4 linked regions of the Homo sapiens genome follow. The protein of the gene in region 1 binds, or shares a complex with, the protein of each later gene. Each region holds a gene or a part of one and is shown in the gene's direction. Other genes may lie near its edges.

The links.
Region 2: the proteins of PRIM1 (region 1) and PRIM2 are in contact, whole or in part, in a crystal structure (PDB 5EXR), measured with the Homo sapiens proteins. Residues at the interface, in NP_000937.1 of Homo sapiens: Lys147, Glu148, Asp149, Phe150, Gly151, Phe152, Ala180, Val181, Gly184, Ile185, Glu187, Tyr188, Ser190, Leu191, Lys193, Lys207, Ile208, His209, Pro210, Ile212, Arg213; in NP_000938.2 of Homo sapiens: Glu165, Ala168, Ser169, Pro171, Ser172, Phe188, Ala189, Leu192, Phe195, Arg196, Gly197, Arg198, Val200, Tyr201, Leu202, Glu203, Asp204, Gly205, Phe206.
Region 3: the proteins of PRIM1 (region 1) and POLA1 are in contact, whole or in part, in a cryo-EM structure (PDB 7OPL), measured with the Homo sapiens proteins. Residues at the interface, in NP_000937.1 of Homo sapiens: Asn92, Thr93, Val94, Lys95, Leu96, Gly97, Ala98; in NP_058633.2 of Homo sapiens: Tyr439, Ala440, Pro447, Glu448, Lys449, Ser450, Phe876, Thr877, Thr878, Gln880, Leu906.
Region 4: PRIM1 (region 1) and POLA2 share a complex: the UniProt entries of both Homo sapiens proteins name them as parts of the alpha DNA polymerase complex.

Annotation. Positions count from the first base shown.
Region 1 is NC_000012.12:56,735,314-56,742,339, reverse strand, and holds part of PRIM1 (DNA primase small subunit), read left to right. Parts: intron 1-502; coding exon 503-594; intron 595-763; coding exon 764-905; intron 906-2,976; coding exon 2,977-3,046; intron 3,047-3,814; coding exon 3,815-3,906; intron 3,907-7,026. UniProt on the Homo sapiens protein: Catalytic subunit of the DNA primase complex and component of the DNA polymerase alpha complex (also known as the alpha DNA polymerase-primase complex - primosome/replisome) which play an essential role in the initiation of DNA synthesis.
Region 2 is NC_000006.12:57,313,323-57,320,641, forward strand, and holds the start of PRIM2 (DNA primase large subunit), read left to right. Parts: upstream 1-4,307; 5' UTR 4,308-4,379; intron 4,380-5,114; 5' UTR 5,115-5,123; coding exon 5,124-5,277; intron 5,278-7,134; coding exon 7,135-7,238; intron 7,239-7,319. UniProt on the Homo sapiens protein: Regulatory subunit of the DNA primase complex and component of the DNA polymerase alpha complex (also known as the alpha DNA polymerase-primase complex) which play an essential role in the initiation of DNA synthesis.
Region 3 is NC_000023.11:24,990,895-24,997,489, forward strand, and holds the end of POLA1 (DNA polymerase alpha catalytic subunit), read left to right. Parts: intron 1-4,910; coding exon 4,911-5,056; 3' UTR 5,057-6,092; downstream 6,093-6,595. UniProt on the Homo sapiens protein: Catalytic subunit of the DNA polymerase alpha complex (also known as the alpha DNA polymerase-primase complex) which plays an essential role in the initiation of DNA synthesis.
Region 4 is NC_000011.10:65,271,957-65,278,982, forward strand, and holds part of POLA2 (DNA polymerase alpha subunit B), read left to right. Parts: intron 1-3,935; coding exon 3,936-4,042; intron 4,043-6,773; coding exon 6,774-6,967; intron 6,968-7,026. UniProt on the Homo sapiens protein: Accessory subunit of the DNA polymerase alpha complex (also known as the alpha DNA polymerase-primase complex) which plays an essential role in the initiation of DNA synthesis.

The DNA of each region.
Region 1 (7,026 bases):
AATATTGGGAATACAGGCATGAGCCACTGTGCCCGGCCGGATACAGCTGTTGAGTTTAACATTTGTGGGGTGGGTTGTTTTGTTGTTGAGATGGAGTCTCACTCTGTTGCCCAGGCTGTAGCACAGTGGCACAATCTCAGCTCACTGCAACCTTCACCTTGCAGATTTAAGCAATTTTCCTGCCTCAGCCTCCAGAGTAGCTAGGATTACAGATGTGCACCACCATGCCCTGCTGATTTTTCTATTTTTAGTAGAGATGGGGTTTCACCATGTTGGCCAGGCTGGTCTCGATCTCCTGACCTCACGTGATCCACCCACCTCTGCCTCCCAAAGTGCTGGGAGTACAGGCATGAGCCACCACGCCCAGTCAACATTTATATTTCAAGAAATGTTAATAACTACTTTCTGAATATTTGTAAGACACCCTTGTGGTAATACATACTTAAAACTAAATTGTTCATTGATGTTCCCTAAATGAGTCTGTTCCTTAATGACCCATCACCAATTCATGATGAACTTCAACAAAGCTTCCAAAAGTCTCACAATTCACTTCAGCGTTGGGAGCACTTGAAGAAAGTAGCCAGCAGATATCAGGTATATGCCACTGAAATCTGTATTACAGATATAATAATGCAATTCTTAATTAAATTGATTGCTTTGCCTAGTCAGTTAAAGATGGTTGAAGATCGTTTTTTTAACTTTCTTTAAAGAAATCTTCAACAGTTCCTACTGATCCTCATGTTGGCCTTGTATCTGCTTTTAGAATAACATCAAAAATGACAAATATGGACCCTGGCTGGAGTGGGAGATTATGCTCCAGTACTGTTTTCCACGGCTGGATATCAATGTCAGCAAAGGAATCAATCATCTACTGAAGAGCCCTTTTAGTGTTCATCCTAAAACAGGTACTACACAAGGAAACTAAGGAAAACTAAAAGAAAAATGAGTTGCTATTGGCTTTAGTAAGCATGGCATTAGGTCTGAATATATATAATGTCTATGATTTAAAGGTAGAAGAATTGCTCTGTCACCCAATACCTAAGTCAGTTAAGTAGCTACCAGATGAGTTTCTACTATGTAACTGTTTTTCAGTTGGGTTTCTGAGGTTCCATATTAGATTTGGAGAGGACCATCAAAATCTTAGGACAACAGCTCTCATTGTACAGATGAGAAAACAGTGGCCCAAGATGTAACCCATCCAAGGTCATAAAAAAAAAATTGTGTGTGACTGTATGTGGTAGCTTGCTCCTGTAATCCCAGCACTTGAGGAGGGCAAGGTGGGCAAATCACTTGAGCCCCAGAGTCTAACACCAGCCTAGGCCACATGTCTAAACACCCTTTGTACAAAAAATACAAAAATTAGCTAGACGTGGTGGTGCATGCCTGTAGTTCCAGCTACTCAAGAGGCTGAGGCAGGAGGATCACTTGAGCCTGGGAAGTTGAGGCTGCAGTGAGCTGTGATGGTGCCACTGCACTCCAGCCTGGGCAACAGAGTGAGACCCTGTCTCAAAAAAAAGAAAAAAAGAAAGAAATGAAATGAACTCTACTCCTAGCACTGACAAAAACAAAAAAAAATTTTTTTCGAGAAAGAGTCTCACTCTGTCACCCAGGCTGGAGTGCACTGGTGCAATCTCGGCTCACCGATCGGCTCAAGCGATCCTTCTGCCTCACCCTCCTGAGTAGCTGGTACTACAGGCATGTGCTACCACAGCCAGCTAATATTTTGTAGACAGGGTTTTGCCATGTTGCCCAGGTTGGTCTTGAACTCTTGAGCTCAAGCAATTCACCTGCCCCAGTCTCCCAAAGTGCTGGGATTACAGACAAGAGCCACTGCGCCCAGCCTCATTACGTCACTTTTGAGATGTGTTAAATTCTATATGGTATCCTAGGGGGGTATTATAAAAGAGTAGAGGAATTTCTATTTTATTTCCTAAATGCTTTTTAAAGGTGTCTGACATGTGGGTATCTGTATTGATCTCAAATAAACCAAGCCAATGTAAATATTATAGTTTCATCTATTTTGTTCTATTTTCAGGACTCACTAACTCTGAGATTGTTCTGAACTTAAATATGGAATATTTAAATATACTTTATTTCTAAATATAGAAATAAAAGTAGGGATAAGAGCAACTGGGAAATAGCTCAACAGTCTTCACATTTGCTTATTGGTTTTTGTTTTTGTTTTTTTTCTTTCCTTTTTTTTCGAGACAGAGTCCCACTCTGTCACCCAGGCTGGAGTACAGTGGCGCGATCTTGGCTCACTGCAGCCTCTGCCTTCCAGGTTCAAGCAATTCTCTGCCTCACCCTCCCAAGTAGCTGGGATTACAGGTACCCGCCACCACACCCAGCTAATTTTTGTATTTTTAGTAGAGACGGGGTTTCACCATCTTGGCCAGGCTGGTCTTGAACTCCTGACCTTGTGATCCACCCTCCTCAGCCTCCCAGAGTGCTGGGATTACAGGCGTGAGCCACTGCACCTGGCTGGTTTTTTAAAGAGAAATAAAAGGCATGCTGGACATGGTCATTCACACCTGTAATCCCAGCAACTCAGGAGGCTGAGGCAAGAGGATTGTTTGAGGCCAGGAGTTCTGGGCAACATAGTGAGACCCCAACTCAACAAAAATTGAAAAACTGGCCAGGCCAGGAGCAGTAGCTCACGTCTATAATCCTAGCACTTTGGGAGACAACTGAGGTGGGAGGATCACTTGAGCCCAGGACATCAAGCCTGCAGTGAGCTATGACCATGCTACTGTATGTACTCTAGCATGGGTGACAAAGTGAGGCATTAACTCTAAAAAAGAGTAAGGGCACAGCTAATGTGAAAGTAATTTATATTTCTAAATACTCTTCTTAACAGATAAGTTTAACCCTTTGTCTAAGCCTTAAATAAAAATTTTAACCAAAAATAACCTGTAGGAGATGACTATAATGATTTATAGTCCACAATCATCAGTTTATAACTTTTGTGTCTTACAGGTCGCATATCTGTGCCTATTGATTTGCAGAAAGTGGACCAGTTTGATCCATTTACTGTTCCGACCATAAGGTATGTTTCAGATCATTGATCACTCCTTGTTTGTAATTGTTGTTATGAATTTTAAATAAATTGAATTAGCCTCCTTAGAGAAGTAGTTGCATGGGAATGGTATATTTGGTTATGGAAACCAAATAAGGTTCAAAGGTTAGATGACGATGCCCTAATAGAACAATACAAGATTTTCACCTGCTGTTATGTAAGAAAAAGATTTTAAGGTCAAGTAAATTTAGGAAATTCTGACTTAAACAGATTAAAAGTATCTTTTACTACAGTATTTCACAGTCTTTCATATGATAATATGCATGAAAAACTCCAAGAAGAGATCATGGTGTTTAGAATATCCCAAATTTAGCTGGCCGCATAATTTTTTTACAGTAAATTTTATGGGATTCACATGCTATTATACACTGGATAATGCTGATCAGAAACCAACATTAAACTTCTCTTGTTCGTGGTGAGGCGCGGTGGCTCATGCCTGTAATCCCAACACTTTGGGAGGGCAAAGCGCGTGGATCACAAGGTCAAGAGATCGAGACCATCCTGGCCAACATGGTGAAACCCTGTCTCTACTAAAAATACAAAAATTAGCTGCGCTTGGTGGCATATGCCTGTAGTCCCAGCTACTTGGGAGGCTGAGGCAGAAGAATCACTTGAACCTGGGAGGCGGAGGTTGCAGTGAGCCAAGATCGCACCACCACACTCCGGCCTGGCAACAGAGCAAGACTCCGTCTCAAAAACAAAAACAAAAACAAAATTCTCTTGTTCTGTTACTTGCAGCTTCATCTGCCGTGAATTGGATGCCATTTCCACTAATGAAGAGGAAAAAGAGGAGAATGAAGCTGAATCTGATGTCAAACATAGAACCAGAGGTAAGGTAATATTTTGAAGCTTCACTTTAAATACAGGGTTTTTATATAGATATCCATCTGTCACTCCAGTAATTAATTCTCTGATTCAACTAGAATGGATCAGCATTTGTCCTGGAACTGCATACAATGTTTGTGTCCTTTCTTCAACAGCAGCCCAAGTGGTGTTATTGAATCCAGTCTGATTCAACACATATTTCCTAAGTAACTTTTAATGCTAGGATCTATACTGTAAGATTAAACTATCAATAAGTATGAATAATCAGTCTCTGAGATTCACCACCTATTTATTTAACAACTATTATATATGCAGTACTTTTTTTCTTTGTTTCTGATGCATATAGGTGGGTTTTATGGTAAACATATGTCTAAACTGTTTACCAAGTTGTATATTCAAGAATTTGAAGAAGCTGGCTGGGCGCAGTGGCTCACGCCTGTAATCCCGGCTCTTTGGGAGGCCGAGGCAGGCAAATCACTTGAGGTCAGGAGTTCAAGACCAGCCTGGCCAACATGGTGAAACCCCAACTCTGCTAAATATACAAAAATCAACCAGGCATGGTGGAGGGCACCTGTAATCCCAGCTACTCGGGAAGCTGAGTCAGGAGAATCGCTTGAACCCAGGAGGCAGGGGTTGCAGTGAGCCAAGATTGTGCCACTGCACTCCAGCCTGGGCGGCAGAGGGAGACTGTCTCAAATAAACAAACAAAAAAAAAGAATTTGAAGAAGCTAAGGAATTTCTAAATCTTCCTGCTAATGGAAGGCAAATCTAACACCTAAGAGATACTGCAGGCCAGGCGCGATGGCTCACACCTGTAATCCCAGCACTTTGGGAGGCCCAGGTGGGTTGATCACCTGAGGTCCTGAGTTCGAGACCGGCCTGACCAACATGGAGAAACCCTGTCTATCCTAAAAATACAGAATTAGCCGGCTGTGGTGGCACATGCCTGTAATCCCAGCTGCTCGGAAGGCAGAGGCAGGAGAATCGCTTGAACTCAGGAGGTGGAGGTTGCGGTGAGCCAAGATCACGCCATTGCACTCCAGCCTGGGCAACAAGAGCAAAACTCCGTCTCAAAAAAAAAAAAAAAGATGCCGCATAGCAGCGCAGCACTCCCCAACCTTTTTGGCATCAGGTACCAGTTTTGTGGAAGACAATTTTTGCACGGACTGCAAAGAGAGGGGGAGGAGTTGGGGATGGTTCCAGGATGAAACTTTTTTACCTCAGATCATCAGGCATTAGATTCTGATAAGGAGTGCGCAACCTAGATCCCTCACATGCGCAGTTCACAATAGGGTTCATGCTCCTTTGAGAATTTAGTGCTTCTGCTGATCTAACATAAGGCAGAGCTCAGGCGGTAATGCTCGCTTACTGCTCACCTCACACCTGTAATCCCAGCACTTTGGGAGGCCGAGGCAAGAGGAGCCTAGGAGTTTGAGACCACCCTGGGCAACACAGAGAGACCCTGTCTCTCCAAAAAAAAAAATTTAGCTAGACATGCTGGCAGGCACCTGTGGTCTCAGCTACTCAAGAGGCTGTTTGAGCCCAGGAGGTTAAGGCTGCAGTAAGCCTTGACCACACCACTGTACTCCAGCCTGGGTGTCAGAGAGAGACCTTGTCTCAAAATGAAAATTATGTGGCCGGGCGCAGTAGCTCACGCCTGTAATCCCAGCACTCTGGGAGGTCAAGGTGGGTGGATCACCTGAGGTCAGGAGTTTGGGACCAGCCTGGCCAACACGGTTAAACCCCGTCTCTACTAAAAATACAAAAATTAGCCAGGCATGGTGGTGCACACCTGTAGTCCCAGCTATTCAGGAGGCTGAGGCACAAGAATCACTTGAGCCCGGGAGGCAGAGGTTGCAGGGAGCTGAAGTTGCGCCACTGCACTCCAGCCTGGGAAACAGAGTGAGACTTCGTCTCAAAAAAAAAAAAAGTATAATTTCTTTCTTACTCTTTTTAAAGAACTATTATGAGGATTCTTAATTCCATGCAAACGTAGGATACTACTAAAATCCAAATTTTATGTGAAACTCCTTTCTTATTCTCAATCATATTTTCCCATTGGGTATCATTATAGGTTATATAATTAAATGGATGAATAAAATTGTATATTCTTTTTTTTTTTTTTTTTTTTTTTTTTTTTAGAGAAAGAGTCTTACTCTGTCACCCAGGCTGGTGTGCAATGGTGCAATCTCAGCTCATTGCAACCTCCGCCTCCTGGGTTCAAGCAATTCTCCTGCCTCAGCCTCCTGAGTAGCTGGAGTTACAGGTGCCCGCCACGACGTCCAGCTAATTTTTGTATTTTTACTAGAGACAGGGTTTCTCCATGTTGGTCAGGCTGGTCTCGAACTCACGACCTCACGTAATCCACCTGCCTCGGCCTCCCAAAGTGCTGGGATTATAGGCATGAGCCACCGCACCCTGCCTATATTAAATTTTTTGTTGTATACATTTTTTAAACTATTTTATAAATCAAAGAATACTTAATGCAGGCCAGGCGTAGTGGCTGATGCCTGTAGGCCCAGCACTTTGGGAGCCTGAGGCGGGTGGATCACCTGAGGTCAGGAGTTCAAGACCAGCCTGGCCAACATGGCGAAACCCCATCTTTACTAAAAATACAAAAATTATCTGGGCGTCGTGGCGGGCGCCTATAATCCTAGCTACTCGGGAGGCTGAGGCAGAAGAATCGCTTGAACCCAGGAGGTGGAGGTTGCAATAAGCCGAGATTGCCCCACTGCACTCCAGCCTGGGAGACAGAGCAAGACTCCATCTCAAAAAAAAAAAAACAAGAATACTCAATGTAAAAACTTCTAATAATCTCCAAAAGGGCGTGACCAGAGCCTGAGCAACACAAGACCTTGTCTCTACTAAAAATAAAAAATTAGCCAGCTGTGGTGGCACTCCCTGTGATCCCAGCTACTTGGGAGGCTGAGGTGGGAGGATCATTTAAGCCAGGGAAGTCAAAGCTGCAGTGAGCTGCAATTGCACCACTGCATTCTAGCCTGGGCAAAAAAGCAAGACAGTGTCTCAAAAATAAGACATGGGGCCGGGCACGGTGGCTCACGCCTGTAATCCCAGCACTTTGGGAGACTGAGGCAGGTGGATCACGAGGTCAAGAGATCAAAACC
Region 2 (7,319 bases), on another chromosome or scaffold:
GTTTATTGTCTCTCTTCCCCATTAGAAGATTTATAAGAGCAGGATTTTTTGGCTCTCTCATCATTCTCATATCCCCAGCATAGAAAATGTTGCCTGGCACTTAGTAAGTGTTTAATTACTATTTCTGGAACACACCAAATAATGCTGATATATGGAAGGGTAGTGTTTCTTCACCGTGCTACCATTAAGAATGTGCTTTCTGTCAGTTCTCCTGCTCCTTGATTTTGACTAATAAAGCAATCTAAAGCAAATGGAGAGAGAATGAAGTGCTTTCTTTAGGTTGTTTCCCAGCCAACTCCGAGAGGTAGGCAGTGAAATGGGGAGGGTGGAGGGCCAGAGGTTGGCTAACTCTGCATTAGCTTTTATGGGTCAGCTATCTTGCTGGAAATACCTCATGTTCTCTGCTTTTCATGGCAAACACAGCTGGTAGGACCTAGAATTTACAGCATGCTTACTCAGTAAAGAAGCTTACCACGCCTTTGGTTTTCAGGGCGACACACCCCGCTCAGAAGAGGAATGAACACTCACTTAGATTTACCAAGCATGGCAACTAAATTCTCAGCTGTAAGTGTGACACTTTTTGGGATAGAAGTTCTGGAGCTGTGGAGGAGTTATCTCAGGGTGAATGCCACGTGGGGCAGTCTGTCTGTAGCTGGGTAATGCCCAAGGCAGGCACTGAATTGAGCAGTGATGATTCATGGAAATTCTGCCAGAGAAGGTACTCTGTGCTTTATTACAGGCTAAACTAGGAAGCCAACTCATTCTGGAAGGAATGTGTATAATGTTTTCAGATGAGGACTTGAAGTTTTATAGGTTGGAGTCACATTTGATTCAAACCATCTGTTTAATGGGAAGCTGAACCCAGCATTTTTTTTCATATGTCTCTCACAGTATTCAACAATTCAGTATGGGCTGGGCGCAGTGGCTCACGCCTATAATCCCAGCACTTAGGGAGGCCGAGGCAGGTGGATCACCTGAGGTCAGGAGTCTGAGACCAGCCTGGCCAACGTGGTGAAACCCCGTCTCTACTAAAAAAGCAAAAAAATAGCTGGGCATGGTGGCAGGCGCCTGTAATCCCAGCTACTCGGGAGGCTGAGGTAGGAGAATTGCCTGAACCCAGGAGTTGGAGGTTGCAATGAGCCGAGATCATGCTACTGCACTCCAGCCTGGGCAACAGAGCGAGACTTCGTCTCAAAAAACAAAACAAAACCAAAGAAAAAACAAAAACAATTCAGTTTCATAAGTATTTATTGAGGGCCCATGGAGTGCCAGGCACTGGGGTCACAGAAATGAATGAAACAGTCATCCCTGTTTTTGAGATGCTATGGTTCAGTGGAAGTAAAACTTACATGTTTATGTATGTTTTCCTTCCCATGATTGTGAGGTCAATGTCTGTATTTACAAGAATCTTGGTTGCCAGGGCTGAGCATTGTGTCAATCAATTTTTTGTAGATGAAGTGAATACATGAAAGAGCTCACAGTGATTTACTGAACATGGCTGCTGAAATGTATAACATTATTGTGCATTATTGCTACCGTGATATGCGGATTTATATTGCAATTGCCTCTGGATTCAGAAAAACACCCTTCACAGTGAGGTAGTGACCAAAACTGTGGCATTAGGAAACAATAAAAATGCTGGAATAGCTGACCAACACAGGGTATTTTGTTCCCCGGGGCTTAAAATCAGTTTTTAATATGATGAAAAGGCAGCTATTATGTGACATAGTAAGATATTGGTATGTTAAGCATGAACATATATTTCCAGTTTTCTCTGAGCTGGTCATGAAATGACACTGGCTACTTCGTCTTTTAATTGGGCAGATATTGTAGGAAGTACTTTGGGGATCACAGAGATGAACAAAAGGGCTCATCCAAAGAAAGCTTAAAACCTAGTAGTGCTGGAATTCTTAACTAGCCACATATGGTGATCTTGAACCTCTTGAAATAGTATAGATGTGTGTGTAGGTGCATTTTTCTGAAGAGAGCTTTCATCACATTGTCCAGTGGTTCATAGACCTAATTAACATCCCTCTACTACAGAAGTTCTTAATCTTGATCTTCCAAAAGATAAAGAACTTCTGTAGTAGAGGGCTATAATTATTTAAAGAACTACACCATATGGGAGTCATGAAGAGCCTCAGGGGTTTAAATGAGGAGCAAAACAGGTGGCAACACTGAGTAGTTTCATTATAAAATCCTTGACAATTTTGCAGGAGAAAATTTCTTTGCCTCTAGTGATAAAAACATTTTTCATATTTAACAGTAGTTATTTTTTCTATGAGTTACCTCTTCTTCTTCTTGTCCTATTTTTCTGTTTGTGTCTTAGGATTTTTTTCCTAATGAGTTAACTTCTTTGTATCCTGATGGCATTAACCTTTTCGATGTTATACTTTTGGTAGACCTTTCTCTAGTTTGATGAGTGCAAAATACTTCTGTGAATTTTTTACATGCATAATTTTATACTTTTTATGGTCAAGTCTTTATATCTTTTTTCTTTGTAATTTATAATATTTAAATTTGTTTGCTATCCAGAGATAAGATATTCATGTAAATATTCTTATGGTCTGTGATGCAGGTTTTTTCAGGCAGTTTATATGCTTTCAGGTGTCTTCTTTGGACCACGTGATGTATTTGTATTACGTATTTGTATTATGTATTTAATACAGAGAGGAAGAAATGAGGTGAAGCTCTGCTGTCATATTACTGGAATTGGTGTAGTGAGATCGTTAGCACAGTGGGGCCTGGAGAGTTTCTCTGGGTTTGAACATGGCTCTGACATTTTGTGTCCTTTTGACTTCATTTAACTTCTCTGTTCTTCAGTTTCCGTATCTAGAAAATACGTTTAATATAATAACCTTTGGGAGGCCGAGGTGGGCGGATCACGAGGTCAGGAGTTCGAGACCAGCTTGCCAACATGGTGAAACCCCATCTTTACTAAAAATACAAAAATTAGCCAGGCGCCTGTAATCCCAGCTATTTGGGAGGCTGAGGCAGGAGAATCGCTTGAATCCCGGAGGCGGAGGTTGCAGTGAGCCAAGATCGCTCCACTGCACTCCAGCCTGGGCGACAGAACAAGACTCTGTCTCGGGTATTGGTGGTGGGTCGGGGGGAATAACCTATCTTATGTGGTTATGATAATAAAATGAGTTGATATGTAAACCACTTAGAACAGGTCCTGATATAAAGTCAGTGCCAGCCACAGTTTAGTCCAGGCTGGGTAGATGCTTTGAAGCTTGATATTGTTTCAATGTACTTTGCATTTCTAAAAACGTGAACATTTCAAAGCATTCATTTGATCTCCTAAGGACTACCTATACCGGAGCCTCATTCCAGCACATTTGTAAGCGAGGCACGCCTCCTAGAGGCCACGAGTGAAGTTAATTTCCAGTTCTCGAAAATCTTACAGACAGCGGAGAACTGGTGTGGTGGCTCTGACGCCCCGCTTGTGAGTCTGCAGTCGGACATCTGGAAAGTAAGCGGCACGTCCGCGTGATTTCCAGTGCTTCATCTTCTTCCACCCTACCTTCCCTCCGAGGCTGGGTTCTTCTAATTCCTGTAGATTGCAGAGCGATTCCTGCGAATGTGCCTTCTTTCATTCATTCTAGTTCATTCCACAGATAATTCAGCTGCGCGCTTCCTCTGTGCGAGGCATTGCCGGAGAGCGGGGAGCGAATTGAACGTGGAACCTGCCAGTAGGGGCTTGCCGCCCAATACGAAATTCAAAATATGTATTGTATGTAGACGGGCAAACTAACGAGGATCTTGTAACTTGTTTTCTCATCTGCCAAATGGGGGTAATACGATCTTATAGGACCTTATAGGTCGCTGAAAGATTAAACGAGCGGAAAAAAAAGAGCCCCTAATAGTGAGCTAGGTGCAAAAAAGATCCTAATGCCTTTTTTCCTCATTCCTCCCCAGATTGAAAGTGATGAGTGCCAGCCCTGAGGGTTAAAGCGCCATATTTTCCTCAATATAGGGAATATTTGTTAGTGTCCCCAGACGAAGTTACATTGGTTCAATTTTCGGCGTGTGGGAGTTTTCGCCACTAGCATTCAGCACCCCAGTTTCAACCGTTAAAGCTACCGACTCCACATACAGGAAATGCATCTTAAAATTTGGAAAAAAAATCCCCAAAACACTGACATCCAAACACTTTAAAGCTGCCAAGGTGGACGGAACACCTTGAATTCCCAGACGCGCTCCACTGAGCATGCCCAGAGCCTCAGGCCAAACCCCCTCCTACCCGCCAAGGGGAGGTGGGGCAGGGCTGGCCTTCTGTGCTAGTCACTTCCTCTTCCGGTTTCATATGAACTCTCCCGCCACCCGGGAACAGTGGCTGCCACCGTTTGTGTTTTCCCGAGTTTGAATTCTTGCAGGTAGGGGAAACTTCCGCGAATTTAGGACAGAGAGCAATCCTGTTATTAAGGCTTGCAAGTCGAGAGAAAGGAGAGATGGATCACTTTGCAGGCAGCAGTAGCAGAAGGACAGACTTGGCGGGTTGGTTGTTTGGGGCAGACACCCAGGTACCAGGGAGGAGTTGGGGAGAGATAGGTTTGCCAGTGGAGTGAGGAGGGGTGTTGGGGATGGAACTTTTGTAAGGCACTTGTGGATGCTCCCGAAAAGGAGTTCCGAAAGACAGTTGCTCTGTTTCCCAGAGTCATAACAGAGGAAGTGAGTAACTGGACCCAGTCCATCAAGTAAGACCCTCATTTAGCCAGAACCTACAGCACTTTCCTCTAAGTTCAGGATTGCAGACCACGTAAAACCTTATGTTAACTCTTGGGATCGTAAAGATCCAAGAACAGTGACACACAGGCCTATAATGAGCAGGCAACATCACCTGACTTTCATGTTGCTGAAAATTAGGATCACCACCTGCATCTGCTCTAGCGCCTCTCCCACCCCCATTACAAAATTATTATAGGTGTATTGTAGAAAATCTGGAAACGAGAGAAGGACATCACCCAGGAATTGCCACTGCTAACATTTTGTGCATGCCCTCAAATCCATTTTTTTTCTGTGTTTGTGGAATTATTTTTTCGTGTTTTTTCTTTTTTTTCCCCCAACTTTGTTTTCCATCATTTTACGCTTTTTGTGTACTTCCTTCTAAGGTGACCAAGATGGAGTTTTCTGGAAGAAAGTGGAGGAAGCTGAGGTTGGCAGGTGACCAGAGGAATGCTTCCTACCCTCATTGCCTTCAGTTTTACTTGCAGCCACCTTCTGAAAACATATCTTTAATAGAATTTGAAAACTTGGCTATTGATAGAGTTAAATGTAAGTACTATTTAAATTAGAATGTATATATTCTTGAGAAGCTCACTTACCCTTTGTGAGAATGAATGAAGGTAATTCATTTCCTTCATTCAGCAATCCATTCAACAAGTATTTATTGAGGTAATTCATATCCTTCATTCAGCAATCCATTCAACAAATATTTGTTGAGGGTTTGGTACTCATTCATTTATTTATTGTACAATGCATATTATTGAGTGCCATTATGTTCTAGGTGGCAGGGATTTTGAGATGAATAATGTTATTTTTTGTTGAAGTTTTATTCTAGTACATGGAGACAGACATCCAAAATAATAGTCATAATTCAGTATTTTAACTGCTCTAGTAGAAGTAAATGGTAGTGCTGTTGAAACAAAGAAGTGGGAGTGACTGACTTAGTCTTATTAAATGAGCTTCTTAGAGAAGTTGAAATGTGATCTGGACATACTGAAGAATGAGTAGAAATTTTCCAGCAGAGAAGAAGTGAAGAGTTTTTCCAAGCTGAGATAATGGCCTATGCAAAGGCTTGGAGCATGAAAGAGAATTTCATATTTGAGCTAACAGTAACAAGTTCAGGAATTCAGGGTGGATGGAGAAGTATGGAGGGCATTTTGTGCCATGCTAATGATATGATATTGGGGTGTAAGAAGGATGTGGCCACCGTCCTGGGGGCCTACTTAATCCTCAGTGTGTTGCTAGAGAAAAGAATGGGCTAGACATGAATTGAAACAGAAACACTAGCGTTGTCTTCAGAGTTTATGTTCCAGGATATCCCTGTGGGGAAATCAGAAGGAAAGGTGAGATACTGTTAATCATTCTTAGAGGAGCAGGGTAAGCACTGCTAATACAGAGAGGAGGCACTCAGTGCCTGTGTGTTGAATGAAAGAATGAAGACAAGGGAGAAAAGGGTTTTAGAAAGCTTAGCAGTGTCAATACTTCATAGGGATTAAGATGGTGATTGAAAAGTGTCCCTTGGGTTTGGCACTTGAGGTGAAATGATAAGGGCCTGAACTATGATAATGACAATGGCAGTGGTAGGAAGGGAGAGAGTTAAGGGATACTGAGGAGTTAGCATTGATAGGATTTGGTGACTGGATATGAGGAGTGAGGGAGCAGGTGTGGAGTGGCTGCAGTTCCTGCTTGGATGATCTGATGCATGGAAACTCTGCTGCTGGAGATGGGCATGGCAGGACGAAGAGTAGGAATGAGGGGAGGATAATTAATTTGGATACCCATACCTGTGGGACATGGGGTTTATGTTCAGGAGACAATTAGAAGTTCTTCATTCTTGACTTCAAAAATGCCTCCAGAGAATAATTCATCTGAGGAAAGATTGATATGGTGCTTTAGGAACCTTTGAACAGTATGTAGCATCTGTTCAGGATGGTTCATTTGGCTGTTTGGATGGCCTTTCTTCTTCACTGTTGTGCTCTGTCCTCGGCTTCATCAGGAAAGGAAGGGATGCTTTTTTTCTGTTGAATCTATGCCAAGTAAATGATGCCTACTGCCTAACAGGCAGCTCCCATACGAAGGATGCAAACAAGGAGTGCCTAGTTTTTTTTTCCATACTGACATACTTTTCTGTTCCTCAGGAATGATTATTCACCATCCATCCCTCTTCCCTGATTGAGAATCCCTGGTATTAAATTATGCTGTGGGACATGGATATTTTCTGCACATAGATGGACATTATCCTCTTATAAGCATATGTAGTTTATATGATGTCGTTACAGGAAATAAACTGGCAATTACCTGTCATGTTCTGTAAACAAGTAATTATGGAATTGCCCTCCATAGATTTTGTCTTGGATTTAGTTTTAAAACATTATCTTGCATTTATACCTTTTTTCTTTTTTTTAGTGTTAAAATCAGTTGAAAATCTTGGAGTGAGCTATGTGAAAGGAACTGAACAATACCAGAGTAAGTTGGAGAGTGAGCTTCGGAAGCTCAAGTTTTCCTACAGAGTAAGTAAAAAAGGAAAAAAAAGTTCCTTCAGTTTCTATGCATTTATGTATTGAGTGTCACTTGTGGGAAAGATATTATAT
Region 3 (6,595 bases), on another chromosome or scaffold:
GTTGCTCTCATTCAGCCACTTCACAAAAAATTATTTTATTCCATCTCTCAGTGATGATGACATGATTGCTTTTTGGTAATCATTTACCATTCTGATTTTATTTTTTGAAGTAAATTGTCTGAAGTAATAGGTTCTTGGAATTACAGCGTGCCTTGCTTTTTTCTTAGAACTTTATTTAAGCTTGTCTTCCAGCATTTAACCCGAGTCCCCTCTTTCGTTTGATCTTCTAACTTTATTTATACAACAGTGCTTAATGATCCTGCACAATGTGTTTCTTTTTTTTTTTTCCTTCTCTACAACCTCCCCCCCCACACCCACCCAAAAAAAAATTCTGTCCAGTATGGTTGACAGTACTTTTTATAACCTCAGCAAGGGGGCTGCATGGGCAATTTTCTTCCGACATGACAAATGCAAACACCCAAAACCCAACCCTGAGAGAATCACTTCATCCAGTTGAAAGGAAATTTTTTATCTCTTTCAAGGTGACTCTTTTGCCACTGAAACATGGTAAGGGGCACGACTCTTACCTTCTATTCTTGTCTATAGAAGTGGCATTCTTTACATTGCTTTATTCTGTCTCCTCCCTTCTCGCATCGGCCTCTGCTCTTCCCCAAACTTCCACTGAACAACCCTTCCTGGTAGTTGGGCCCCATGGCACCTCCATTTGCTTTGAGTGTGAAGGGTCACTGTTCACCACCACCAGGCTGCAGCAAGCCTGTGTTTATTGAACATGAACCAGACCAATGGTGGAGAGAATTATAATCACACTTCTAAATACTTGTCAGATCAGCCTACAGCCTAGTAGAGCACTTGAGCTAAACCATGGATATTTTATTCTTCTTGAAGGCTGTATTTTGGTATCAACATAAAAGAAGAAAAAAGAAAGAAAACTGAAGATAATTATTTCTAAGTAGGAATGGAACTGGATAGTGGACTAACAGACTCTTCAAGCCTTCAGAAATATTTTAGCATCTAAGATGTGATTTAATGGGTGAGAATGGTCCTCTAGGCATTGGCTAATTGATAGACACATTGATCACTGTGTGTGCCTGGCACTGTGCCTTGTGAATTTTTTTTTTCTAAATAAGAATTGACTCAAAGATTATTTCTTTTCATTTCTTACTTTGAGAAATGTTTATGTACTTGCCATTTGATTTGGGGCCCTAAATGTCTTTGAGTTTAAAATATGGATGTCACTTGAAATCTTTCAGGTACTGTGCATAGCCGGAAGCTCAGTTATATGGATCGATATTCAGGAAAAAGGCAGGCCAGAGGCTCCAGCAGCTCTCTGTAGGTCGGATGGCTCTACGTGTAGAGAGCGTAGAGGGGTGCAGTTTTCTTTCAAATTTTTCTAAAGCTTCCTGCATTCCACCCCTTACTGCAAAGCTCACGTTGCATTGAGGGAGGGAGGCTATGGATTGGAAAAGGTGGGAGAACTGAGAACTGTATGGTGGGAAGCCATGCAATTAAAAAACTGACTGAAATTATTACCTGATTTCATAATTGACAGAATATTTAATTCAGATATAGTAAATTGACACACCTCTACACAGAGACAATTATGACTGACTGTATAACACCTGACAGAATCAATTATAACTGACTGTTGTTTGATACCTTTGTACAGAAATAAATGAAACAGACATTCAGAACAGAGACGGCTGCTGCCTGTGTGCCTAAGCCTGCCTTAATTAAAAGAAAATAACCAGTAGGCGATGTTAAAATGTCTTTGCCTCGTGGTTTCTAGTTCAGTGTGTTTCTTTAAGTCCAAAAAGGGTTTTATAAAGAGTAAAGTTGAAAAGAGATTTTTGGTTTACTGACATGGAACTAAAATATGTGAAGTAGAGTTAGTTTCCTTAGATGGGAGAATACTCCATTATTTTAATAGAGCTAGCATTTTATTTGATCAGTTGACTTTTATATAAAATATTTAAGAAAGGTCAACCTACAGATGATGGTCTAGTTCATCCCATATAGAAAAGAATGTAACTTTCATTATTTTGAGGTTTTAGATTCTAATCAATAGAAATCAACTTTTAAATGAGCAGTTCATTTTGTAGTCTGATAAAATATTTTGTGAATAATTAGTATCTAGGCTACCCTTTTTTTCCATCGTTTTCATAGGGGTTAGGGACAGAATATTTTTGGTAATTAACATATAACCACAGGGAATCAGAGCATGTAGAAAGGATCAGAGTAAATAAGCTTTATATACACGTTCCTCGAATGTTATTCTCAAGAAAAGTTTAAAAAGGAGATTAGCTTTGCTGATGTATTAAGATGAGTGATTTCTGGGTGATACTTCAAGCCATTAGAGTATATTTCAGTGACGCACTTGTGTGTAGGAAGAGCATTTCCTCCCCGATCTCGACAAAGGTTGGCTTTGTGGTGCTGGTGGCGGAGACAGCAGTTACCAGGGCCAGTGGCATCTCTGTGGACAGGGATGGGATGGCTGCGGATCTTCTCTGGCTCTTGCCTAATGGCATGTTGGAATCTTTTAACAGTTGTTATTGGGCACCTGACCTGCAGCACCTGAGGTGATGGCGTCGTTACTGATAGGCTGACTCTCAAAATCAAAGCAGGAAAAGGAATCAGGGTTTTACTGGCCACATTAACTGGCCTCCACCAGTTAACACCTGTATTTTCCCTTGAGTTCTAAAGTGGTGGATATAGTATTGACAGAAACAGGGTAACAGTTTAATGTGAGGCCTAACGTGGGTGGCCCAGGTGCCTAAAGGGGGAAGAGAAAAACCAGGAAGGGGTGACTCCTTCCCCCCACCAGCCCCTGTCCCTGACGCAGCCTGTGACAGCTAGTCCAGTTCTGTTTCCTAGAAGACCTTCCATATGTTATTGATTAAATTCTCTTTGGGGAAGCAAGTGGGAGCTTTTATCTGCATCTCTAACTGGCGTGGAATGGTGCCTTGGCCGTATTGACTGGCTATGGGATATGCTGGCGGTCACAGTTGTCTTTTAGGAGGAAGAGCACCGAGTGACGCTGGTTGTCATTCTAACTCTGCTGTGTGGCAGCGTAAATAGTCCCCTTTCTAACCAACCTGGTGGGAAAAGTCAATATCCCATCAGCAGAGGAGGTAAACACATCAGGAGCTATGTCCTCTCTTTTCCTCCCCTGCTCCGTATTACCGCAGCTCTTTAAATGTGCTCTCCCCAGTCATCAGATGCATTTGTGTCATTCACATGCACGGGGTTGCTGGCCTGTGGCTCTGGCCTGCCGGGAGGCAGCCGACACTGGTTGGGGCCATTGTTGTTTATTCCCAGACTCAGATCATTAGAACTTTCAAATTGTCTTTCTGTTGCAGCCCCCCTCTCTTTTTCCACCCCTTTTGGGCATTTTAATTCTCTATAAAACCTGTGGTTGTTCTTTAAAGGACAACTTATGTAATTCAGAAAAGGTTGTGGAGAGCAAATGCGAATGTATAGCCAAGAAACAAAAATCTGGAGTCTGAGTTTTCGTTTTCCGGGTGTTTTGTAGACTTCCCGTGTTGCTGTTGTTGGAGGTTTGCTTTCTGTGAGTGGCGCGCTCTCCCCTCCGTGTTTCCTTCCTGACCGGTTCCTATCGGGAGGTGCTGGGCAGCCTTGCTGCTCCCAGGCCCTTTGGCACAGGCCAGCATCTTATGGGGGCGGAGGCCTCACCTCAGGATCAGCTGATGTCTGAGGCCTGCAAATTTCTATGTGGGAGTAGTGATGTAGTGGCAGGGGGAGTGGGCAGAAGTGAGCCTCTCCTCAGGTGCGGGCTGGGGGTTCTGGCTACCTGGGTTTGCGTGTCTACAACTCTGATTACCTGCTGTGTAACCTTGGGTAAGTGACTTAACCTCCCAGTTTCCTCAGCCATCAAATGGGGATTGGGGGTGGGGGGGGCGCGGGGAAAGCAGCCTCTCCAGACACCTTACCAGGTTCCTGAACACAGCGTCATCCCCCACGTGATCACTCTCTTCACCCAAAAGATCAGACCTGAGCATCACAGCCCCACTGCTCCTTTAAAAGAACAACATGTAGGGCCGGGCGCAGTGGCTCACGCCTGGAATCCCAGCACTTTGGGAGGCCAAGGCAGGAGAATCACTTGAACCCGGGAGGCGGAGGTTGCGGTGAGCCGAGATCGCGCCACTGCACTCCAGACTGGGCAACAAGAGCAAACCTCTGTCTCAAAAAAAAAAAAAGAAAGAAAAAAAACAACATGTAGAAGTAGCAGGCTCTGGGAAGGGAAAGGAGAGGGGTCTTTTCTCTGGCTGGTAGCATCCTGCTCAGAAGGGAAAGGCCAGGGATGAATGGGTTAAAGGAGCAGGAGTGCCGCATACCCTGAGTTCACACAGTGTGGACAAAGAAGAGCAAAGAAATCTTGGCCATGGACAGACAGGTGCCCTCGGGGCCGCTCACCTCTCGCCTCTTTCAGCAAAGGAAATTTTGTTTAGCAGAGGGACTTGGGCTGGAGGGACTAGAAAATGCTTACTAGGCCCAGCTGATCTGGGGAGTTGGGGCTGGAAGGCACCAGAGGCCATAGCTCCCTTTGAGACTAGGTGTTTCCTGCCACGTCCAGACTTCGCAAGCAGTTGCATGCATGTGCTCGCAGCGCCGGTGAAAGTGGCGTCTGCGAGTAGAGCTCACCTTGTCTGCTGCACATGAGGGTGCACCTGCAGTTCACATCAGTAGAGGGTGGCCCTGTCCCCCAGTGCACTGAGTCAGCTAGGTGCTGAGAGGCGGACAGACAGGGGAAAGGAAGAAAAGCTTTCACAGAGGAATGGTCGGCGGGGGCTGCATCTGACTGGCCCCAGGGGTAGACCAGAGATAAGATGGTGGAGATACAAATGGAATCAGCATCCCCTTCTCTGGTGGAATACTGAATGTTCTTTAAAGAAACTACCTGAGACTTCTAATCTCTCTCTCTCTCTTTTTAGATAAATTGAAGAAGCAATTTTTTACCCCCAAAGTTCTGCAGGACTACAGAAAACTCAAGAACACAGCAGAGCAATTCTTGTCCCGAAGTGGCTACTCCGAAGTGAATCTGAGCAAACTCTTCGCTGGTTGTGCCGTGAAATCCTAAGGGAATCCCAGGAGTAACCAAGGAGGGGGTAGTTGAAAAATCCCAGCTTCCTCTGTGCCTCCACTCTGGCCCTAAATGCTCCTCCAGCATCTGTTTCTCCCTTGGGACTGTGTCTCATGTTTGTGTGAATGTAGACCAGGAAAGGGGGCTGCAAAAATGTTGAGTCTAATGTTCGTAAGCATCATAGAAATTCCTGTCTTCATATTAAGATGTACTGCTTTAAAACACAACTCCAGAGCCCCTCCCCAAGCTCCCCTCCCCAAGCTCCTGAAGACCCGGTTTCTGAGGGAGGGAAATTGCTACTTGGATTGAGAGTAGCTGGAATGTAAGTGACCCCAGGCTTTGCCTCAGGGCCTTTAGCCTATGTCCCCCCCACATAAAGAGAGCTTCTCAGAGCCTGACTGAAGAGCTGACGTTTTGCTTTTTCATATGCCAATTAAACCCGGTCTAAATCCAAATGCTTCTCCAGCCATCCAGGAGTGGCTGTCCTTTTCAGTCTTGTCTTTTATATAGGTAGCTGAGGGGGAAGATTTAGAAGCCTTGCACTCACTAAATAGATTAAACAGAGCAGGCTTGTTTGTTGAATTGCTCCAAAGTCCAACAGACACACACTGAGCAGGTGTTTTACACTCACATTCCCTTTTTGCCCCTTAAATAGAAAGTGCAGGTAAAGGTTTATACAACAAGAAAGCACATTGAAAATAATTTGATACTCTAACAATCCATTAACATGTGTAGGGGTTACGGTGAGGATCACTGTGTTGTATTCAGAAAAACGGGGAGAGGGATGCTTAATTGGCCCTGGCGCTTGCTATTTTTTTCTCATTTCTTCACAATAGGACCGTCTTTGGCAGCAGCAAAATGTATTTCAGTATGGCAGTCTTTCCTCTCTTACATTATTGGTAAGATTATACTAACAAAATGTTTCCCCTTGTACAATTATGCTGTGTTTTTAAAAAACATTGACCTGTGTGTTTTTATAAAAGAAAAAGTATGTTGTGCCTTCTTCTTAAGAATAAAGTTTTCTAAAGGGAAAGCAGTTGTGGTGAATCCTTACCAGGTGCAAAGAGTTGACTAGAGAGGCAGCAAGGAGTAAAATGTGAGTAGAGCCAGTTGCTGTGGCACACACCTGTAGTCCTGGCTACTCGGGAGGTGGAGGCAGGAGGATGGCTTGAGCCCAGGAGTTCAAAGCAGACTGGGCAACATAGTGAGGCCCCCACCTCTAAATACATACACACGTACATACATATACATATACATATACATATACATATACATATACATACACACACACATATATATATATACACACACATATATATACACATATATATATATATGACTAGAGGCCATCCCCTTTTCAAACCTCAGCCCAGTTTCTTCATAGCCACCTCTATCAGAACCCAGCTCAGGAGTGCACAGCATGATATTTGGTCGAATGTTCTGAGAAGCATTCAGAATTTCTGTGACTTTAGGTCATTTAAGAGATGAAGTATGGTTTCTTACGTGCTTTGCTGACTTAGAGAGCCAAGCCAAGAG
Region 4 (7,026 bases), on another chromosome or scaffold:
TATCACATGGAAATTGTTCAGTCACTGTTAGGCCATGCATCAATGGCAGCATGATAAAATAGTCAAAGTGTGGCCAGGCATGGTGGCTCACACCTGTAATCCCAGCACTTTGGGAGGCCGAGGTGGGAGGATCACTGGAGGTCAGGGGTTCGAGACCAGTCTGGCCACCATGGTGAAACCCCATCGCTACAAAAGTACAAAAATTAGCTAGGCATGATGGTGGGTGTCTGTAATCCCAGCTACTCGAGAGGCTGAGACAGAAGAAACACTTGAACCCAGGAGGCGGAGGTTGCAGTGAGCTGAGATCATGCCATTGCACTTCAGCCTGGGCGAGAAAGTGAGACTCCATCTCAAAAAAAAAGAAAAGTGTGAATGTTGGCCTTTCCATACAAACAGTGCCAGGCTGAGGTTGCCTGACCCTTGTCAGGTCTTGGGAACAGGTGTCCCTCTGCTATAGAGGTAAATATGATATGTCAGTGATTTTAGCTTATCACTATTAAATATTTCACCTGTACGATTGACAGCTGTTCTTTTGCTTCCGTGTTCACCATAAATCTGCTGATGATTTGGCTGCCATGTCCCTAACGGAGAGAATGTGTTAGCCTGAGGACTTGACGTTCCCATACCCTTGGCAATTATATTTCTAGTAAATTAATAAACTGGCATCCTTGGTTATAATTTGATTTTCTCTGTGAGTGTGAGAATGTGCTTACCCTAGGATATGAAAATATGGTACCATTGGTGACTACATTTCTGATTAAAAATGATGAAACCGGCCACTGCGGTGGCTCACGCCTGTAATCCCAGCACTTTGGGAGGCTGAGATGGGTGGATCACCTGAGGTCAGGAGTTCAAGACCAGCCTGGCCAACATGGTGAAACCCTGTCTCTACTAAAAATACAAAAATATTAGCCGGGCGTGGCAGCGGGCGCCTGTAATCCCAGCTACTCGGGAGGCTGAGGCAGGAGAATTGCTTGAACAGAGGCGGAGGTTGCAGTGAGCTGAGATCGTGCCACTGCACTCCAGCCTGGGCAATCAGAGCAAAACTCCATCTCAAAAAAAAAAAAGAAAAGATGAAACTAGCCAGGCGCAGTGGCTTATGCCTGTAATCCTAGCACTTTGGGAGGCCAAGGTGGATGGATCACCTGAGGTCAGGAGTTCGAGACCAGCCTGGCCAAAATGGCAAAACCCCATCTCTACTAAAAATACAAAAATTATCCCGGCATGGTGGCACATGCCTGTAATCCCAGCTACTCAGGAGGCTGAGGCAGGAGAATTGCCTGAACCCAGGAGGCGGAGGTTACAGTGAGCTGAGATCATGCCACTGCACACTCCACCCTGGGCAACCCTCCGTCTCAAAAAACAAAAACAACAACAACAAAAAAACATGATGAAATTGGCATTAAGTGTTAATAATGAATCGTATGAGCTTGGTTAAAGGGAGCGCATCCTTGAGAACTGGTACTGGAGTTGGTGAACACTATTGGATTTCAGCCCTGAGGCTGAGGACTAGAACACCAGACTGTGCCTTGTTTACCAAAGTGCTGTCACCTTGCCACGTCTTGCGAGACAGACTGTCATTCTCTCAAAATATCCCTGCCCCACAACACTGGCCGTGGAGTGTTGTAGCCCACTGTATATTAGGAGAATCTTTTGGAGGGATAGTTTGAGAAAATGTGTTAAAATTATAAAATCTTTTTTTTTTAATTATAAAAAAAATAAAGGCAGGGTGTCACTATGTTGCTCAGGCTGGTCTTGAACTCCTGAGCTCAAGTGATCCTCCTGCCTCAGCCTCCTAAAATGCTAGGATTACAGGCACGAGCCACCATCCCTGGCCAAATTCATAAAATCTTTTTCTATCATTTGACCCAGTAATTCTCCCTAGGGGGAAAAAAAAAACTCTTCTGAAGAAATAATTCAAATTATGGGAAAAGCTGTATGCATGAAGATACGCATTTTAGCATTTTTTTAATTTAAAATCTTAATTTGCCAAATCACTTTTCACCTGAGACTCAGCATTACTTGTAATCACTGAAAATTACAAGCAACCCATAATCCAGCAATAGAGAAGTAATTATGTAAATCATTGTAGGTCAGTTTAATTAAATAACACAGCTACTAAAAAGGATAAAGACCTGTAATCCCAGCACTTTGGGAGGCCGAGGCAGGTGGATCACCTGAGATCAGGAGTTCGAGACCAGCCTGACCAACATGGCGAAACTCACATCTCTACTAGAAATACAAAATTAGCTGGGCGTGGTGGTGCATGCCTGTAGTCCCAGCTACTCAAGAGGCTGAGGCCAGAGAATCACTTGAACACGGGAGGTGGAGTTGCAGTGAGCTGAGGTTGCAGTGAGCCGAGATCGCACATCGCACTCCAGCCTGGGCAACAAGAGCGAAGTGAAATTCCGTCTCGGAAAAAAAAAAAGGGAAAAAGATTGGGTCAGGTGCAGTAGCTCATGGGTGTAATTCCAGCATTTTGGGAGGCCGAGGCAGGTGGATCAATTGAGGTCAGGAGTTTGAGACCAGCCTGGCCAACATGACAAAACCCCATCTCTACTAAAGATACAAAAATTAGCTGGATGTGGTGGCGGGCACCTGTAGTCCCAGCTACTCTAGAGGCTGAGGCAGCAGCATCGCTTGAACCCAGGAGGCAGAGGTTGTAGTGAGCCGAGATCTTGCCACTGTGCCCCAGCGTGGGTGACAGTGACTCCATCTCAAAAAAAAAAAAAAGATTAAAAATGTAACAGTGTGGGAAAATGTTGATAATTAATATAGAGTGAAAAAATTCAGCACATAAAATACTTAGGTTTATATTTAAACTAAGATTATGACTATAATTTGTATATTCTAATTTGTGTATTTGTAATCTTAATATACAAATTATAAGGCACCACGCCTGGCTTTTCTTTTTCCTCCTCAGACATGAGGTCTCGCCGTTGCCCAGGCTGGTCTTGAACTCCTGGGCTCAGGTGATCCTCCCACCTTGACCTCCCAGAGTGCTGGGATTACAGGCATGAGCCACCACCCCTGGCCTAGAAAAATATTAAAATACCATTAAGGAATATTCAAAACTGGTTATTATATCAGGGTAGTAGAATAAGGGATTTTTTTTTTAATCTATTTTCCATTGCAGCTGGTTTTGATGGTTTTGAATCTGTTCTCTGGCATTCTGTCCTGCAGTTGCCACCAGCTGACCACTCTGCAATATAACTTCTTAAACTTGCAGCCAGGAGGAGCCCTAGGGCAGGGAAAGCTGCAGACTAGCTGGCTTCCTGGCTGCTATCCAGGCAAGGATTTTGTTTTCTCTATTACAGTCGATTATCCTAGACTTTAGGGAGCAATAGGTCTCTGGACTGTAGGTTTCAGCCTCCGTTCTGGGCTTATCTTTGGATTCTTGTTGATGAGTCAAAAAAAAAAAAAAAAAAAAGGAGTGACCATCAGATGTTTGCTAACTCTTCAAGTATGAGCTCAACCTTGTTATCTGCCTGGAGTCATTTCCTTTGAAAATGTATGGTAGACTTTGCCAAAGTAAGTAGTAATGTCCCATTCCTTCTCAGGAAAATGTGTACACATAGATCAAAACTATGCATTGTAAAACTCATATCTGTTTGAAAACATAGAGGTAGGGACAGAAAGTAAACATATGAAGGATTTGACAGGACACATTACCAGCCTGGTGGTCCTTTTTGGAAAATGTTTGCTTTCTCGTAATTGCCTTCAAAATAGGGACAGTGTCCTGAATGTTGGTTACAGTTGTTGAAGATTTCTTTTTGAGATTATGCTTGGATGATGGGGCCTTAAGAAGAGAACCCACCCAGTCCTATTTTGTGCCTTCGTTTGGACATGTTCTCCCTTTTCTTCCAAGGTACTATACACTTAATTAGTATTGGGTCTAGTAGGACTGAGATTTTGTTTTCCTTTTTTTTCCCTAGGGTTCTCAGAAGCGAGCTATCTCTACCCCAGAAACCCCCCTAACAAAAAGGAGTGTGTCAACTCGTAGCCCCCATCAGCTACTCTCACCGTCAAGTTTCTCTCCAAGGTATGGATCATAATTCATTCAAGTGCCATAAAGCTGGCCTCCCCTCCCCTTTCTCTGGCTATCTGAGGAAGGCTAACAGCAGAGTTATTAATTAACTATAGGTGGGCATGTACCTCTGCAGTGAATTGGCTTGAAAGCCTATTGCTCTCTGCCTTCCTTGCTCTCCTTTTCTTTGTGGAAAATTACTGTTTCTTACGGTAATTAAGGAAACTCACTTTCCACCCACTTTTCTAGGGCTCATTTCCTAGATCGGGAACTGATATCTTGTATTGAAAACAACCTGTCTATTCAGAAGTCTAAGAGTCTTAACAGGTCTTGTCAGTAGAGGCAAGTAGGTTTCCACCTGCTTCTGTTTGTGTTTTGTTGGGTTTCTTTTTCTTTCTTTTCATCTAAAGTTTTTTTTTTTAAAGAAAAGCACATATCTTTGTTCATAATGTTTCATAACCTGTTTATTGTTTCCAAGTCAGGTTAGAACTAGTTTCTGAGAGTTTTCTTGTCACTGTGACTCTGCCCTGACTTAATTGGTATTTTGTCCCTCTGCCACCATTGCACATAAATCCACAAAGATCATATGTAATTTTTTGAAATCCATAAATGACACGTCTCATATTAGAGAATTCCATAGGCAAGTGCTCTGCTGAGTAGATGGGTTTTTAGGAGTTTCCACATCAAGATGAGGCTCCGGAGCAGTAGTATTAACCCTTCAGGGAAACACCAACTGCCAGGAGTCATTACCTCTACTTTGGATCACTTCTAGATGAACCAGAGCTTAAGATTGTTCAACTCTATCACTTTTTTTTTTTTTTTTTTTGAGATGGACTCTCACTCTGTCACCCAGGCTGGAGTGCAGTGGCACCATCTTGGCTTACTGAAGCCTCTGCCTCCCGGTTCAAGCGATTCTCCTGCCTCAGCTTCCCGAGTAGCTGGGTCTACAGGCGCTCGCCACCATGCCTGGCTAATTTTTGTATTTTTAGTAGAGACGAGGTTTCGCCTGTTGGCCAGGCTGATCTTGCACTCCTGACCTCAGGTGATCCACCCGCCTTGGCCTCCCAAAGTGTAGGATGTCAAGCATGTGCCACTGCTCTCGGCCTTTTCAGCTCTATCACTTTAGAAAGGTGGTGATAGAAGCTCTGCAGTCATTCAAGGTGAGTGGTCATTGGATTTTTTTTTTCTTTTCTTTCTTTTTTTTTTTTTTTTAAGATAGGCTTTTACTCTGTTGCCCAGGCTGGAGTGCAGTGGCACAACTATAGCTCACTGTAGCCTTGGCCTTCCAGGCTCAGGTGATCCTCCTACCTCAGCCTCCTGAGTAGCTGGGACTACAGGTGTATGCTACCAAGCCCAGCTAATTTTTATAATTTTTGTAGAGATGGGGTTTTACCATGTTGCTCAAGCTGGTCTCGAACTCCTGGCCTCAAGCAATCTGCCTGCCTTAGCCTCCCAAAGTACTGGGATTACAGGCATGAGCCAGCATGCCTGGCAGTAATTGGATTTTGAAGGACAGTTTTACTTTAGGGTAGTCTACTGCTGCTTTGGGGAGTTCTCAGGCTTTTTGGAAGAAAGCTTTCTAGACTTAAGAGCATCTTTGCAACCTGGTATGTAGGGATGGTTCTTATAGACGTGCCAGCACCATTGCAGGAGTTATATTCTCCAAATGTCAATACAATGCTCTGAAACCTGTAGATCTGTTTACAACTGTCCTCATGTGAGCATCTTGCTGCATTAAAGGGCCTGCTGTAATGGATGGCTCATGGAGCTTCCCAGGGAAGAGCTTGGAGAAGCTGGCAAAATGCTGCCTAGTCATTTTTTAATGCACACTAATAAAGCTGACAGCAGAAACTGGTTTTGTAATGTATGAAAGTAACTTCTAAACTATTCACGTAGAGGTGGCACTGGAGATTGAGATAATTAATTGAGCTCATTTTCTGTAGGCTGTGAAAAGAAAGAATGATGGCATTAATTGCGATGGTGCCCCACATAAAACTGGTTCCCGCAGAGTTTCAGTGCATTAAACAAAGCCTGTTTTAAATAGACCTCTCTGTACGGCGTGTTTACAACCAGAGGATTAGAAGACCTCACTGTCATCTAAGCAGATCAGCAATATCCATGTGTTCTTAGAGGTATAATTTACCAGTCAGGGAGTGGAAATGTGAGAACTTGGCAGTTGAGCCTAGAAAAATGGGAATGTTTGCACATCACCAGACTGTTAATTCATTACTTACCCACCTCCATAGACACTGGGGAAAATTGATTAATTTGAATTTCATTTTATTGTTGTTTCTACCTTGAACCATATTGTGAGTTTTTATATATGCTCAGCAAGTTTTAGCTTATCCACAGTTGCAGGCTCAGATGATGTTCCAATAAATGCTAAAAATTCATGAGAAGAAAAAAATGGGACTTAAAGTTTGCCTTTTAATCAATTCAGAATCTGGGGATCTTTTTGCCTTGCTTAGTTTTAATGCCAAGAGAACGACAACTTTTTAAAATACGTTTCTGTCTCTAAACTTCTCTAAAAATGTTTGGTATTCCTCAGCCTGGTATTCCTCAGCCCTTCATTCCTGAAATTCCTTAAAGGTCTGGGTATGTCCAACCCCATTAAACTGATTCAATTTATAAACTATGAGGCCACCTTCCTTTTCTCCAGTCCCCATTTCCAAAGGTAACCTCATTTTATTCTTCTCTCCCTTTAGATATGAACACAGTAATATTAACCTGTTTTGCTTCCAATTAGTGCTACTCCCTCCCAGAAATACAACTCACGAAGTAACCGAGGAGAAGTGGTTACCTCCTTCGGCTTAGCACAGGGAGTATCTTGGTCTGGGAGAGGAGGAGCTGGAAACATCAGCCTGAAGGTCTTGGGATGTCCAGAGGCACTAACTGGGAGCTACAAATCCATGTTTCAGAAGCTCCCAGACATTCGAGAAGGTGATTGTTTTTCCCTTTGAAATTCTGGTGGATATAAAACCACCTAGAAGGGTGTAGAG